2 linked regions of the Homo sapiens genome follow. The protein of the gene in region 1 interacts with the protein of each later gene in a pairwise test. Each region holds a gene or a part of one and is shown in the gene's direction. Other genes may lie near its edges.

Region 1 (5,561 bases):
GCAGGAGGAGGGAGGCCATCGAGGGCAGCTCAGGGAAGGCTGTCTTCAGGGTGGGGGACGGTGTCTGTCCATTCTAGGAAATAGCATCAGCGCTGTTAGTGCCTGTCACCATGGCGACCCGAGGGCAGGAACAATCAAGGGACGTGTGTGATGTGTGCAGAGGAGCGGGGGTGGCTGGAGTTTGGTGGGGACACACTGCCCTAGAGGTCTCTGAGTGGGAGATGGGGGAGGGAGTGCCAAGTCCTTTTCCTACCACCTCACACCCTAGCTCAGGGCTCGGGGTCTGTGGGAGCACAAGGGCAAGACCCGGAGGACACCCTGCTCTAATCAGAACACCTTTTTCTTGAGGATTGGGGTGGGGGAGACGGAGAGAGATTCACAGGTTGCTAGGAGCTCAGACGTGATGCCAGGAGGCCTTGCCCAAGCTGGGATACTTGGGAAACAACTTTCAGCTTCATGTGCAAGTGGAAGAATTAAAATTAGGACTCTGACACAGTTGGAGAGGTCCCCCAAAGGGCATGGCAGCTTCTGCTGCAGTCCCCAGGCAGTTGGGGGCCTGTAGAAACCCACATGGAGGCTGTGCAAGAGGGAGGCAAATGATGGTTGAGGGAATCATTACTTCCTGGAGCCAGTTGTGTGTGTCTTAATTTGAGCTTTTTTCTCCAACCTGTCTTGCTCGTTTTCTAAATGGGAGAAAGATGAAGCCAGCAGGGAGTGCGTAATGTTTGCATGCAGCAGGGCTTTCGTGACTGTGTTTTTTGAAAAGGCCTTGTTAAGGAAATGCTGACGATGAGTGAAACTTGCCAGGTCTGGCTGATAACATGGGTGAGTGCCCTGATCCTGGAAGGAGGTCTCAGAGAGAAGGGACAGCAGGGGGCGAGGGATACCCAGAAGGAAGCTTCTGCATGTGTACGTGGTTCAGGAAATCGGCATGCTCTTGCCCAGACAATGTTCCTTCCCTTATTGGTGTGTTGACTCACCCATCATTCGTTCCATTCTCACTGGGCATCTTCTATGTGGCAGGGCCTGTACCATGTGCTGGGGCCTTTGGAGACCATCCCATTCCTTGTCCAGTCTCATAAAGGCCTGTTACTAAAGCACCGTAGATGCTGAGAGGTCCGATTTGTGTAGAAATCAATGGGCCAGGAGAGAGAGAGCTGATGAAGAATGCTGGTCCGCTGGGGGCTCCTTTGCCTCCTCCATCTCTCCCTGCATCATCAGGCACAGTAGATCTGGGCACACAACCTGCTTAGTAGCTGCTGTTGAGTGGACACTGATGTGCTAAAGACATAGACAATGGTGACAGGAAAGGCTATGAAGTGGTTCTGTCCTGGAAATGTGCTCCAGGCAGAGATTCCCAAAGTCATACGTGCACACTCATGGTCCACCCACCACACCCTCACACACACATGTCTACATACCTTAATATGCACATGCTTACCTATCTCAGACACATCTCCAACACTGAGGGAGGGGCCAACGGAGACGAGCATGGAGACAGCCAGTGCAGAAGGCCATTGAGGGCGGTGGGAGTGGGTATGGGATTGCAGCCCTGAATTCGAGCCCCACCTGTGCCCTTCTGAGTCCCTGATCCATCTCCTCATATGTCATGTGAGGAAGGAAAATCCAATTTTAAATCAACCAACACAGACCCTGAGCTCTCAGGGTGATCTGGGCATTGAGGCTCTGAAGGTGAGTGAGGCCCAGGCTCTACCCTCAAGGAACTGGGAACCAGTTGTATTAATTCTCTATTGCTGCAGAACGATTAACCCTGAAACTTAGCTACTTAAAACAACGAACCATTGTTATCTCACAGTTCCTGTGGCCTGCAATCTCGGTTCAACTTAGCTGGGTACCTTGTGGCTCAGGATCTCACAGAGAAAACTCTTTAGGCAAGAGCATGTGGATTTCCTGAATCACATACACATATAGAAACTTCCTTCTTGGGCATCCCCCACCCCCTGCTGTCCCTTCTCTCTGAGACCTCCTTCTAGGATCAGGGCACTCTCAGAGAAGCAGCCAGCTGTCACCAGGGTTGCTGTCATCTCAAGGCTTAACTGGGGATGGAGAATCTACTTCCAAGCTCATTCAAGAGGCAGTTGGCAGGAAGCCGCAGTTGCTGGCCAAAGGCTGGAGGCCTCCATTTCTTGCTGCAGAGACCTCCATCTAGGCCTTCTGAGTTCTCTCAGCACATGGCAACTGGTTTCCCCCAGAGCAAGTGATCAGAGAAAGAGAAAGAGAATGCAAAACAAGCCACAGTGTCTTTTATAACAATCAGAAGTGACATGCCATCACTTCTGCCAGAGGTTCCTGGGTCACATGAAACAATGCTGATACAACGTGGACTAACTACCCAAGGGTATGAGCACAGGAGGTGGGGATCCCTAGGGGCCATCTTAGAGGCTGTCTACTACACAAGTCAAGTCTCAGCCGAGTGGAAAGTAGTATTGTTGTAGCTGTTGTTATTGTAGGCCACTGCGGACAGTTAGTTGGTCAGCTGGCATCAAGGACTGGGCTCCTGTCTCCATTCCAGGATTCTGCCGAGCCCTCTTGAAGGTGCACAGTGGTAGGGAAGAGATGACTGAAAGGACATCCAGTGCCTTTAGGAGTTGACTGGCAACGTGGGCTGAAGCAAGAGAGAAAATGGGCATCAGAGGGTTCGCCTGCTCCTTGCCTCATCCGTCATGCTGTCCCCACCGCATGGCCCAGTCCCGCTGCTGTTTGTGTGTCTGTGGCCTGGTAACTTAGCCGGGACTCTGAGGGCAAGTCCTGACAGTGTGCCTGGCACACAGGAGGTGGGGGACTGATGACTGATGAGGACCTCTCTGTAAGGAAGAGTCTGGGGGTCCGCATGGGGCTCCTGCTGCCTCTGTTCTCCCAGGTGCCCAGAAAAAAACTAGAAAACATAGTTGGAGGCCAGGCAAGGAGAGGGGCTGGAAGTGTGAGGGGCTTGGGGCAGGGAGAGGCCTCGGCATGTAGACTGTGGCTCTGGCCTGCCAGCCCCTCTCCCCTTCTGTCTTTCCCTCTCTCTTAGGTGTTCCCCTGCTGTTTGTTGTCCCCTGGGGCATTGTCAAGTACCTCTATGAGGACGAGGGGTGAGTGTCCTGCTCCAAGGGGGCGGGTGTGCCCAGGTCCCCATCCTCAAGGTCCATGGGATTCCTTGGTACCTGGGGCACCCATCTGTTGAGAGGATAAAGGGGGGTACCAGGAGCTTAGAAGGTGAATTTAGTTCTCTAATCTCCCCTCCCTGCCCCTGCCCCTGCCCCTGCCCCTGTCCCAGGATTGTTTGATGACTAACGGAACTGGGTCTGTGGGGTACATGGTGCCCTCCTGCAGGTTTTTCTGTAATATCTGCAAGTGAAATGTTTGTGTCATTTTGTATATGATGCTGGGTACACACATGACTGTGTTGGTAGGTCCTTGAAAGCTTGTTTGGGGGCTGTGTGCATCTCTGTGTATGACTGTGTATTTGGACTATGCGTGTGTGTTGTGTGGCTGTGCACTGGCAGGGCTCTGTGGGTCCATGGGACTGGTTTTTGGGTGGCTCCTGGGAGCTGTGTGTGTGGCACTCAACATGGCCATGTGCATTGGCGGCCTCTGTGCCTGCACCTGAGCTGGGGGTCCTGTGAGTCCTGCTGGATGCATGTGTGCATCTCTCTCCCTCCCCAGCTGCTGGACCAGGAACTCCAACATGAACTACTGGCTCATTATCCGGCTGCCCATTCTCTTTGCCATTGGGGTGAGTGATGGTGTCAGGGATGGGAGTGGCAGCTATGATAGGGCTGGGCTGGTGCCCCCTGCCAATCCCCGGCCCCACCCCGCAGGTGAACTTCCTCATCTTTGTTCGGGTCATCTGCATCGTGGTATCCAAACTGAAGGCCAATCTCATGTGCAAGACAGACATCAAATGCAGGTGATGTAACTGAGCTGGCTTTACTGAGGACCCTCAGCAAGTGCCCCTTTCCTTCTAGCAGAGAGAGAGAGAGAGATCCTGGGATGCTTAGCTTAGAGCCCTACACTACCCTCTCCTTCCACCCAGGCCTGGCCTTGGACCCCAAACCCTTGCTTTTGCCCTGTCTCTGGGCAGCCCCTGGACTTGTTGGGGTCTTGACCTCTATTCTTTCCCTCCAGGCAGCCTGTCCCAGGGTATTTGGGGTGGGAGAACATCCATGACCCAGATATCAGGACTTGGTAGGAAGTGGGGAGGGTAGAGAAAGGGAAGAAGAGTCCATGGGAGAGGTCCAGAATGACTCGAGATCTCTGCCCTGCCCCTCAGACTTGCCAAGTCCACGCTGACACTCATCCCCCTGCTGGGGACTCATGAGGTCATCTTTGCCTTTGTGATGGACGAGCACGCCCGGGGGACCCTGCGCTTCATCAAGCTGTTTACAGAGCTCTCCTTCACCTCCTTCCAGGTGACTTCATGCTTGGGGACACTTGCTTGTAAAGTCCTAGAGTGGGGGTGGGACAGACACCAGCCTGCATCATGCAGATGGAAAAGGTGGGAAGACTGGGACCTGGAGGGGTGATCCCTGCCCAAAGTCACCTAGTTGGAGCAGAGCCAGAACTAGTATCCCCAGGTGTCCCAATACCTGGGCCAGTCTTCTCTGTAAGCACATGGGACAAGAAGCCTTCCTGGATGTAGCTCTGGGTACCAGCCTGGCATTGCAGCTGCCATCTACTTGGTGGCGAGCACCCTGCCAGGTGCTTTACATGCATTGTGCATTTACTCCTCACAGAACCCAGGAGATGTGCAGGGTTAGCCTCACTTTACAGAGGAGACTCAGAGGTGTTAAAACCAGAGTTACGGTGTCACAGTTTCAAAGAAAAGAACTGATCCTCTCCACTAGCATTAGATGATGCTAAGGGGGTGTAAAAATACAAAAAAACTGGTCCCTGCCTGCCCCTCAAGAGTGTCATGAGATGCCTGCACACATGTGGGCTCATGTGTGTGTATTTACATACATGTGCAGACATACAGAACACAATTCTGGAGCCCTGGGTCTCCTTCATGAACAGATGGGGCTGGAGTGGGGAATATTCTCCATGATCAGAGTCATTGTACTTCACTGGATCAGGCCTCCTCAAGGAGAGGTTGGATGTAGGATCTCTACAGCTTCTGGGCAGCTTCTGAGCAGGGTCTCCTGGACCCCATGGCACATGCCTGGGAGACCCATGGGGAGAGGCTAGCTGGGGCCTGTAGCCAGGCCTAGTCGCAGAGGTGCAACCCTGGTGTTCCTTCAGAAAGGAAATGAGAGGGAAGCCACTGCCCCATTCCTGGATCTGCCTGGGCCGCTGGATTTGGGGAGGGGGTTGTTGAGGATGGAGTCCCAAAGTGCTTCCGACCAGGGCCAGTCTGCAGGGCACCTCCCTCCTGCTTCCTCCCTCTTGATGTGACTCTTGTTTCCAGGGGCTGATGGTGGCCATATTATACTGCTTTGTCAACAATGAGGTAAGCTCTGAGGAGGGACGGTGGGGACCCTGGTGGGTGGGTACCATCAGCCCGTCTGGAGTAGTACAATGGGGACTCCCATCAATCTTGCCAGCTGAAACCCCCTACT
Region 2 (4,573 bases), on another chromosome or scaffold:
TCCCTTTAATACAAAGAAAATATTTCTGTTTGGATAACCTATACAGTACTTAGTTCAGGCCTCTTGGGGAAAAGAAAAGTGGAAAAGTATCTACACTGTCAATTTGGAGACTGGGCAGACTGGGACCATGTAGCAACAGAAGTTCTACATATAAACAGCGTTACTCAAATCATGTGTGATTGTGAGATTAGGATCTGTGCCCAAAGGAGATTGAACTGCTGAACACTGTCTTGAGCTTTGTCTACTAACCATGCTTAACACAAAAGGACAAGAATTGCATGTTAACAGTGAGGGTCTGGAGCATAGCCAGTCCAGCAGCACCTCGGCAGTGCCTGCTGCAACCCAGCTGTGCTGGTGTGGTCTCACAGAAAGGATGGAGGACAGGAACAAGATTTCCAGATGGCTCTTGTTCAGGGAGTTTAAGAGGGTAGCTTCAAGAAAGGAGGGAACTGGACTCAAAAAATATAAAACATAATACTTTAAAGTACAACTTTAAATGACACCGCAGAATTAAGGAAACAATCAAAGCAGCAGATCTGCTTCCCTATCAGATAGGAGAAGCTCATTTTGTAGAGAGTGTGGGCCACAAGTACTGGGAAGCAAATGCACAAAGAATAATAGGTCCAGCCAACAGTTGCAGTAACAAAGGACGGTTTTTACCTGCATTGAGTGTACAGTTCACTGCTGCATGTACAACATAAGCAAAACAAAAACAGTGGTAGAAATAAATAAAAGTAAAGTCTGAGGCCCTTATGGAAGAATCATACTACTACCTGCTTTTTCCGTGGCTAAAAATGCCTTATAAATTTCATATCTTGAGAATTTCACTTATTTATGCCAAAGTAAGTTTGTTTTAAAATAGTACTCATTTGTAGTGCAGTAACATTTTACTTATATAAAGATTAATTCAAGCTTTTAAAAGTCTGAAGTTTAGAATATTTTAAAGATAGAATTTATTATTTTTAAGCACTTATGTTATCTTTTAGAACTCTTTTGAAGGGAACTTTTATGAAGATATTAGTTAATTTTGAATAGCATGATAATTGTTGCATGTAACTGGAGGCTTCTATAGTGTTTAAAGAAAACTTTTTGTAGGTTATATGTATACCTGTTATTTACATTACTAATTACATCAACAAATCCTTATTTTCATAGACATTCCTTTCAAATTCAGTGAATTCTGGGAGAGCCGAGGTCATATGCTATTAGGGTTTGTATAAAGGTAGAGTCCCTTGCATAAAGCAGGCATTTGTTAACTAGTGAGATTTTTCCCCATTTAGTTTAAAAACGTTACTTTGTTAAATGTCTTTTTCTTTTAATTGTGAGTTTTGAAATCTTATTTTTGTAGGGGTAGAAAACTCTGGTTATCTCCCCCAAATTCCCCTTCCTCAGCCCTGCTGAATCTGGTAAAGTCACTTGTTCAGTGTGCTTTCATTTTTCCTTTCTCTTTTATTTGCCACAGTTCTTACCTGTGCTTCAGGCTTGTCTTGCCTTGTGCCTCTGTTCTCTTCATATAAACAGCATGAAATTGGAAATACTCATTGTCTGTTGTATTTCTGAAGATCAGAATTTTCCCCAGTTTCATGCTGTCCTTTCTCAGGCAGGGTGTGGTAAGTCATCTTTTGAGAACTGTTTCCAGTAAAACTGGAGTATGCTGTTGAAACTGTTGGTGTGCCCTCTTCAGAAACAAAACCAGGAGACTTGCTGTTTATTGCATGAGTCACTGATGGGTTTCAATGAGTGGAAGCAATATTAGATTTTTTTTTTCATGCTCATCAATGCTACATCTTATTTTAAAAGAAGCCTGAAATAAGGAAATAAAAGTAAGCTAATAAACTCCTTCTTTCCCTGGGGAGAATTTAGAATTATATTGGTTCTAGTGTTTGGGGAATAAAGCGGTAACAATGAGGGTTAAAAAAAAATTAGGCCTTGTCCTTTAACCCGTGATACCCTGTAGTGCTCAGAGCTTTCTGGTGTGTACATTTTCTCAAGCTGCACATGAGTAACTTTAATCAGGAGCGAAGTGGTTCTTTCTATTATATGCCATTTCCTCTGTGGCCCCTGCCTCACTTAGCTATTACTGTATGCCTAATCGACCAGAGTGAAATGCCTTTAAAACATTTTCCAGGGAACTAAGGACTTTTTGCAGAATTTTTATAATAGAAAATGCCAAGGAGAGGAAAGTTTTAATGGTTTCTCTGCACAGATAAATGTTTCCAGAGCAGACTGATGATGAGTCAAGGAGCTGTTAATAGGATATGTAAATGTAACCTTTCACCTAGTTACTGTCACTACCTAAGTCATAACTACCTGGTGTCAGTAAATTATTTGAACTAGTTCTTGTCTAGTTCCCTAATTAAACAGACTCTCTTGGTCCCATGATTATCCAGTAGATAGTTAGCACTGTTTCAGCTTGCATTGTCCTGGGTTCCTCCACTCTCCTTCTGTTTTAATAATAGCTCTAAGTCCTATTATAGATTTTCACTAATATCTTTGCCTCCAGCTTTACCTCAGTATTAGTGGAAAAATTTTTTATCTATGTATTTGACAGTGACCTCTAGCTCTTGGGTTTCACTTATTCAACAAATATTCATTCAGTGTCAGCCATGTACCTAGCACTGTTCTTGACCCCAGAGATCCAATAATGAGCAAAAAATTCCTGGTCTGCATTATCATGGAGTGAAGAGTATAGGAGGAAGACAATCCCTAATAAAATTTACACACGACAGCAACAACAACAACAACAACAAATAATTATGTATAATTACAGGCAGAGGTAAATGCTCTGAATAGAACAGTAGAATTTTGTGGGCTTATATAATAGGAACCTGAGGAAGTGACACTTGATTGATATCTGAAGTATGAGTAGGAGAATGTGAGATAGGGTAGGAAGAAAAGTGTTCCAGAAAGCAGAGAGAACTGCCATTTGTGCAGAGGCCCTTTACAGAAGGGAACAGAATGAAATCAAGTAACTGAGGAAGATCAAGGGGAGAGAAGAGCTACTGTGAGGCTGGACCCCTTGGCTGGTGGCCGGCCAGTCCACAAAGGGTCTTGCTGGCCACATGAAGAATTTGGTTTTCCTCATAAGAACATAGGAGAGTGTTTTAGGTCGGAGCTGGGGACTTGATGTGATTTGTGTTTTGGTAAGATCATCTGTGGGGGCGTGAGTTGGATTGGGGTGTGCATGTCAGTGGGGTGAAATTGGGTAGCTCTTGCATTAATTTAATTTGACATGACAGTGTGTACCAGTCTGGTGGTGGATACTGGGAAGTGGCAGTGAAGATAGATCGAAAGTGTTTTGGGGGGAATACCATTAATTGAACTCGGGAATAAGTTGGGGTTTTCTTTTATTTATTCAAAAAATATTTAGCGACTCCCTACTTTATGCTACTCTCTGTGCCAGGCTCTAGGAATAAAACTCTGAACAGTACATAAAATGTCCTTGGACTCATGGAGCTTACTTATTAATGGGAGTGACAGATAATCATTAAGTGTAACATATATATTAAAAACATATATATAATAAATATATATATAATTTCAGGTACTAATAAGTCCTGTAAAGAAAAATTAGGCAAATAAGGGAATGGAGAATGATAGCAGAGGGTCCTCTTACACAGGATGGTCAACAAAAACCTCTTGAAGAGGTAGCATTTGAGCAAAAACCCAGATGAAGTCGGGGAACTAACTGTGCAAAGATTCTCTACGAAGCAGCGGTAACAGGTATAAGATATTGAGGCTGGAACAAAGGAACTCTGCCTCTATACCTCCACCACCAAGGAATACCAAGAAGGCCAGTATGTCCAGAAATACGGGGCGTGAGGGAAGAAAAGTGTTAAGAATGTCTTGCTGGTAGCTAAAACTTAAAGCATCTATATGGGGTCATTATCTTCAGTCCTGATCAGTTTTTCAAAGTCCCTTACTATATCAACTACAATCCCAGGTTGCTCCGCCACTAAACTGATTTTAACACAGCTACTAGAACAGCTTCCTTTACCACAACAGCAAACCGTGCTCAAAAACTGTCAGTGGTAACTGCTTGTCTGTCTTGTCAATGACAATCCCTTCATCAGCCCAGCTAAAAGTCCCCAATCTTACTTCAACCCCACATGCTGTTGCAACCCTTTCTGTACTTCTTATTCAGTTGAAGGCTTCCCTTTAATGTTTGTTTAGGCTTTCCACATAATTTATTCTTTTCTTTTTTGGCATTGTTTTTATTCATCATGAAGCCTCTTTTCTTTCTATTGGCCTATTTCCATCACTTCCTTCAAGAGTTATTTTTTCCACCAGTTTCTTCTGATTTATTCCAGCTTACCTGGATCACAGAACCCCTCAGCCTACTCAGTCTATGTGATGTTATTTTTGTCCTTCCTTGAGTCACTTGAAGAAGCTCTACTTTTAAAGTGCCACCATTGTTCCAAGTTAAAATATTCATGATTGTATTCATTTTTCCTAGAAAAGATTTGGCACCAGTAGTTGCCCTGCCATGTATATATGTGACATTGGCCAAAACAGTCAACGTTCAGGTTTCTTGTCAATAAGATGAAGATACCAAGCCTCCCTTCTTTCATTC

Evidence for each region. Proteins that work in one complex are often made in the same cells at the same time.
Region 2: the proteins of GLP1R (region 1) and PAM interact in a protein complementation assay, tested with the Homo sapiens proteins (one study listed by BioGRID).

The regions. Positions count from the first base shown.
Region 1 is NC_000006.12:39,075,288-39,080,848, forward strand, and holds part of GLP1R (glucagon-like peptide 1 receptor precursor), read left to right. Parts: intron 1-2,242; exon of another isoform or gene 2,243-2,626; intron 2,627-3,034; coding exon 3,035-3,095; exon of another isoform or gene 3,096-3,180; intron 3,181-3,609; exon of another isoform or gene 3,610-3,669; coding exon 3,670-3,739; intron 3,740-3,824; coding exon 3,825-3,913; intron 3,914-4,276; coding exon 4,277-4,415; intron 4,416-5,410; coding exon 5,411-5,452; intron 5,453-5,561.
Region 2 is NC_000005.10:102,760,767-102,765,339, forward strand, and holds part of PAM (peptidyl-glycine alpha-amidating monooxygenase isoform e preproprotein), read left to right. Parts: intron 1-4,573. UniProt on the Homo sapiens protein: Bifunctional enzyme that catalyzes amidation of the C-terminus of proteins. Alpha-amidation is present at the C-terminus of many endocrine hormones and neuropeptides and is required for their activity.